2 separate regions of the Homo sapiens genome follow, and region 2 is linked to region 1. The links come from fine-mapping of genetic effects on gene expression. A gene starts in region 1. The other region holds a variant in brackets. All regions are shown on one strand. Distances are from middle to middle. Region 1 holds the start of HBP1 (HMG-box transcription factor 1). Region 2 overlaps COG5 (component of oligomeric golgi complex 5).

Region 1 (2,834 bases):
GCTTCCCAGTATGTATAACTCCTTTTCTAAGCCTCCTCTCGTCCTGGCATCAGTGGCACCATGAGCCAAAAACAAAACAAACAGAAAACTTGAGTATTACCTCGCTGTCAGTGCTCCTTCTAAAAACGACTGTAGCTGAAAACTCCCTAAGAATGAACTCGAGTGTAGAGTGCACAGCGGAGAGTGAAACACCCTAGACAGCACGCAGCATTTAAAGCTACAAAAACCTGGCTGTCCACTTCGCCTGGTTTGTTTTGTTTTGTTTCAATCGGCCTGCGGTGGCAGCATAGGTTGAAAGGCGGAGACTGGAATCGCCTGCCAAGCCTCCTCTTTGGGTCACACAGAGCGGTGCCTCCCGGTTCACGCCAAGTCCATCCCCCACCCTCTTTCGCCATTCATCGCGTTCCCCTCCCTTCCCCCCATCATGTGACCGCAGCCCGGACTCCGGGCTTGTTTTTCCCCTCGGCTCAGCCCCAGCGCGCAGGCGCCTGGGAGCCCATTCATTCGAACTGCGTAACAATGAGCCCCGGGGCCCAGCGGCTCCGCGAGCTCCTCAGCTCAGCCAGAATCCCCCTCAGTCCAGAAGGAGGCGGCGCCTCACTGGGGTCCCCCACCTCCGGCCAGCCCCCCACCCCTGGCCAAGCTCCGACCCTCCGCCCACAAACGGGGAGTTGAAGTCAAACTTTCCTGGGCAGCCCCGGCGCTGCGTCGGCCCCTTCCCCCGCCCTGGCCCGCCCCATCTCCACACCCGGCCCGGCCACCCACCGCGCGACCTGGCCCGGAACTTCGCCCTCCCCCTGCCTCCTCCCGGCCCCCGCCCGAGACCCCCTAGCGCCGCCGCCCCGAAGCCCAGGTGAGCTCGCGGGAGACGCTGCTCCGGTGGGCTCGCCGCGGGCACCAATCGAACGGTTAACTGCCCCCACCCCAAGGGCAACCCTCCGAGAAGAAGGAACGAGGACCCGAGCCCTCCAGTCTGCCCAATCCCCCGCGCTCCTGCCCCTCCCTTCCCCACCCCCACCTCTTCCCTAACTGAAAGACAACAAACCTGCCGCGAAGTGCCGGCAGCCCAGGCGCGGGCCGCTCCGGCCACGACAACACCACCAGCAGCTCTCGTACCCCCTCTCCGACCGACGTCGGCCTCCCCCGCGCGGGTTACTGCTCCCGCGGCAGCTCTTACTCCTCAACCGAAACTTTCCTACTTACCAAACCCGTCGCCATTACCAAGTCTTTCAAGCTTCGTCTTCCCCCTCCCCTCAACCCCCTGGGGGTTGAGCCCCGCCCAGCTCTTTCGCCCTCTTATTGGACTGCAGAACTGCCATTCGGTTCTTCCCCTTTCCCATTGGGTGGTACCGTGGTCCGTCTCGGGGGGCGGGCATGTATTGACTTTTGTGTTGTGTTTACTGGAGAAGATGGCATGTCAATCACAAGAGTAAGTGCTTCGGATTGGACTATTGCCGAGAGTCCGGGGACCCAAGCCAAACTTTGTCCCCGAAATGGATTGTGGGTTCGTAGTCTCAAGCCTTGGTCCTTGGCTGTGGGAGACTGCTGGCCGGGGAAGAGCTGGACTACGTATCCCAGAGGCGCTCGCACAGCGCAGTCTTGATAGTAAACAAGAGTCATAGGGACACGTGTATCAGCTCGTTTGTTTTGGTGTCTGGGACAAAAGGGAGGGGGCGGAGGAAGGGAGTGTTTTAAAGCTTGGGCCTCTTCTTTTCCTCCGGGCCTCTGCTAACACTTAGAGCGGCCCAAGCCTCTTGCAGCACCCAATCCGGGCCATAAACAGCCAGAGTTGCTCGCTGCTCAAGAGTTTGGCAGGAGGCCAGGGTATTGTTTTAGTGCGAGGGGAAGGAGATGACTGCACCAGCGGAAGTACTGCAGGCTAGCGAGGGACTTGATCACCCACAAATCACGGCCCCAGGCACGAAGGGGTCGAAAGTGATGCTGGGGGCTGCACTGGCAGTGGGAAGAACTAGAAGTCCTTTCTCTTGTGCCTTGCCTCACCACTCCCAGGACAGCAACTTGAGATTGCCTTGTCAGCTCTGTTCAGTTCACCTAAGTTTGTTGAGCCGCCACCTAAGTGCCAGGAAGAGTGAGGCTGGGGGATGGACTGTGAGCAAGCGAGAAGCTGGAGTCTAGAGAATTTACAAAGCGGGGGCGGGGGCGGGCGATTACGAAATTGAGGCAAGTTAAAGCGGCATTTTCCATACTGATTAGTATGCTCGTTGGTTAACGTAATACAAAGGGTGTAATGTATGACGTAAACTGATTTAATTTGTGAATCATTATCAGTAAGTTTCTCTGGTGAGTTTTATTAACCCTCTTTTCCTTCTAGACGTTTTCTCATTGATGAAAGAAACTGTCTTTCCACTTCATTTCCACTAGGAGTTCCTCAAGTTACGAATTCTCTGACTCACCAGAGACGCTTCCCTGCTTTATAGTTAACTTCTCTTTAAACATGGCTGTCCATTCACAGTCGGCTGCATCTAGTCAATAATTGGTGTCTTTACCATTCACATTACAAAGGCATGATTAAGCTTTTTCCCCCCTTTGAACCTTTAGTGTTTAATCATTTAAATTGTGCTTTAGATTTTCTAACTTTAGATCACTAAATATATGCTTAGAATTAAGATGAGGAAAACCTACATTAGTAAGAAATCTGTAAAAGCAAACCTTTGGACAGAGCCAGAAATCACACAGCTAGTTATTTCTTTAAAACCTCCTGCATTTCTTGGATTTTTAAATATACCTGAAAGCCGCGTAACAAATCAAGAAATCCAAAATAAGCCCCCACATGTTGAAATCGAGTTTAAAATTCTTGAGAATTCCCCATTTGA
Region 2 (2,916 bases), 140 kb before region 1:
AAAGAATAAAATGAGAGAACTACAGATTAGGTTGATGATATATCAACTAGTTATAATAGGTGAACTATTTATGGATCCTAAATCAAACAAAGCATTAAAAAATTCCTAACTCAATCAGGCAGATGTCACCACTGATTGTTAATTTTGTAAAGTATAAGAGAACTGTGGCTATGTATTTTTGTGTAATTTTTATTTTTATTTCAATAATTTGTAGGGTTCAGGTGGTTTTTGGTTACATGGATAAGTGTTTTAGTGGTGATTTCAGAGATTTTTGTACACCCATCACCCAAGCAGTGGGTGTACCCAATATGTAGTCTTCTATTCCTCACCCCACTCCCACCCTTCTCCCCCATCATGTCCCTAAAGTCCATTATATCATTCTTATGTCTTTGCATTCATATAGCTTAGCTCCCACTTATAAGTGAGAACATACAATATTTGATTTTCCATTCCTGAGTTACTACACTTAGAATAATGACCTCCTGTGGCTATATAAAGAAAATAGTTCCTACTATTAGATATACTTGTGATTATGAGTGAAATGATAGAATGATATTGGCTCCAAAATAACTGGTAGTGATGGAGGGGCATTGGCCAGGATATAGATAAAAACAAGAGTTGACAAATGCTGAAACTAAGTGATGGATACACAGAGGTTCATTATACTATTCTCTCTACATTATATGTTTGAAACCTATAAAAACAGTGTTTTCAGAATTTTAAGGAAAGCACTTAAGGCAGAGGAAGGAAGTCAGCACAGAAGAATAAAGAAAAATTTAGAGAAGTAGAAAATACAGGAAAGAATGGGGTCATGGACAGTATTTTTCAAAGGAGAGAGTGATCAACAGAAATCAAATGAGAGATCAGAAAAACGCCCACTGTTGTTGGCAATTGGAATGATAGCGTGATTTTCACCAGAATAATTTCAGTGGTGTTGTGGCAGTTGAAAGTCTGGCTGCAGTCTGGAAGAGGCAAGCAAATGTGTGCAGACTGTTATTACAAGGAGCAACAGGACAGTGGCTGCAAATGAATAGTTTATAGAGTTAAGGCGGAGTGTGTTGGCATCTTGTTTGTACTTTTTTATATCATGAGAGAGCATGTTCAGGCATCTTTTATTGATCCTAAGAGGAAGCCAGTAGAAAGTGAGGTGCTAAAAATACAAAAGAAACAAATAATCTTGGAGGAGATGAGTTGGGATGAAACAGAGAACAGAAATTGAGAAATAGGTCTTGGACGTGTGTTCCTGTCAAAGTTGAAGACTAGAAATAGACGGGAAGAAGGTAGAAAATTGAAGAGTTTCTTTCCTAGAAGCCTTTGTTTTTCTGTGAGATAGGAAAGATGGCCATTTTCCTATCACCAGTGGATTGAGGCTTACAGAGTTAGAAGTTTGGAAGAGATTGTGTATGCTTTATATCCCTGTTAAAAAATAA[G/A]GGATTGCAGTACAGAATGCATACCTAGTTGGTATTGGATTCCATAACTTTGTGTTGCTGCCATTATGAGGAGGAGAAACAATAGAAAACCAAAATGTGAGAAATCTCTTAGGGCTATAGACAGATATTTTCATTCATTCCATCCTAATATTTTGTATATAAGACTTGCATTTTAATATCTGTTAATCTTAAATGAGATTTCTCTGAGTTTTACAAAGGTCTGTTTTATTTCTATTCTGGCTTGAGTTTTTCTGAACTATAATTAAAGAAAATTACATTTATTTACAATTAGCTTTAGTTCATATAAATGTTTATTTGCTTCTAAAAATTATTACCCACTTCAGTGGCTAAAGCAGAAAGAATGATGAAAAACATTAACTTGGGGCAAATGACTTAGCTGTGTTTTGTTCTGGTACTCTTATTGTATGTCTGAACTATTTTTAGTGTATTTGGGCATTTTTTTCCAATAATACTCTAGACAATTATATTTTTTATGTAAAACTGATTTTGTTTTGTCATTGTTTTGTATTAGAAAGGATTAATATACTTTACAGTATATAAGTATTTGAAAAGTAGGTGTTTGCAAGTTTGCTGTATGGCCCTTAGTATTTGACTTTTATATAATTCCCATTAATGTGAATGAAATATGATATATTTTATTGTGGCAGAAAGATTCTAAGATCGCCTTCAGTACATCTGTCTACTGGTATTGGCACACTTTTGTAATCTTTTCTTCTTAAATATAGGCAGAACTTGCTTCTAACTTGTACATACAAAGTGCGTATCCCTCCTGTGATTAGGTTGCATACGGTTTTAACCTCCATTTTGCTCTCAGGCGGTCTCTCTATTGCCTTCTTTGCTTGCACATTTTGACGATACAAGCAGCTGTCATACCATTCCACTTGGCAAGAGCCAAGGTCAGCTTCCAGCTAACAGCAAGCTAGAAACTGAGGCTCTCAGCTCACAAGGAACTGAATCCTGCTAACAACCACAAGAGCTTGGAAGCAGATCCTTCCCCAGTTGACTCTTCAGATGAGACTCCACCCATGGTTGATACCTTGATGACAGCCTTGTGAGAGGTCCTGAAGCAGAGGACCAAACTAAGCCATGCCAGGATTCCCAACCCAAAGAAATTATGATATAATATATGTATGTTTTTAAAATAAGCAGTTAATGTTTATGGCAAGTTGTTACATGACAATAGATAACTAGTACATTTATGAAACAAAACATTCAAGACATCCTAAAGGCAATAGATTACTGGCTTCCTTTGCTTTCATAATCTGGGTGATATAGGTGAAGGCCTGGCAGTTGATTGAGAACTGGGCCAGTTAGGAAAAGGAATGAGCAAGAAATGGGTAGCAGCCTGCTCACAAAGGCGGCACTTAATTAAGCTATGAAGGCTGACTGTTTCAGGCCAAATCCTCCAAACAACAGGCAGTTCTCTTAAAATATGACCAGCAGCCTCTACTAGGATAATCTATTC

The links. PIP is the estimated chance that this variant, and not a neighbour inherited with it, causes the effect.
Region 2: its variant is the best candidate, but not a certain one, in a credible set for the expression of HBP1 in whole blood (INTERVAL, PIP 0.71).

Annotation. Positions count from the first base shown.
Region 1 is chr7:107,167,397-107,170,230 of GRCh38, reverse strand. HBP1 (HMG-box transcription factor 1) reads right to left here and starts at 1,228. Exons shown (of 11, transcript NM_012257.4): 1 at 1,046-1,228. RefSeq lists silencers at 529-748, 1,009-1,108, 1,127-1,700 and an enhancer at 1,419-1,578.
Region 2 is chr7:107,305,193-107,308,108 of GRCh38, reverse strand. All of the region lies in intron 11 of COG5 (component of oligomeric golgi complex 5), which reads left to right. Among named protein-coding and RNA genes, the nearest start is that of HBP1, 140 kb to the right of the region's middle. The variant G/A (reference allele first, on the strand shown) is at 1,431.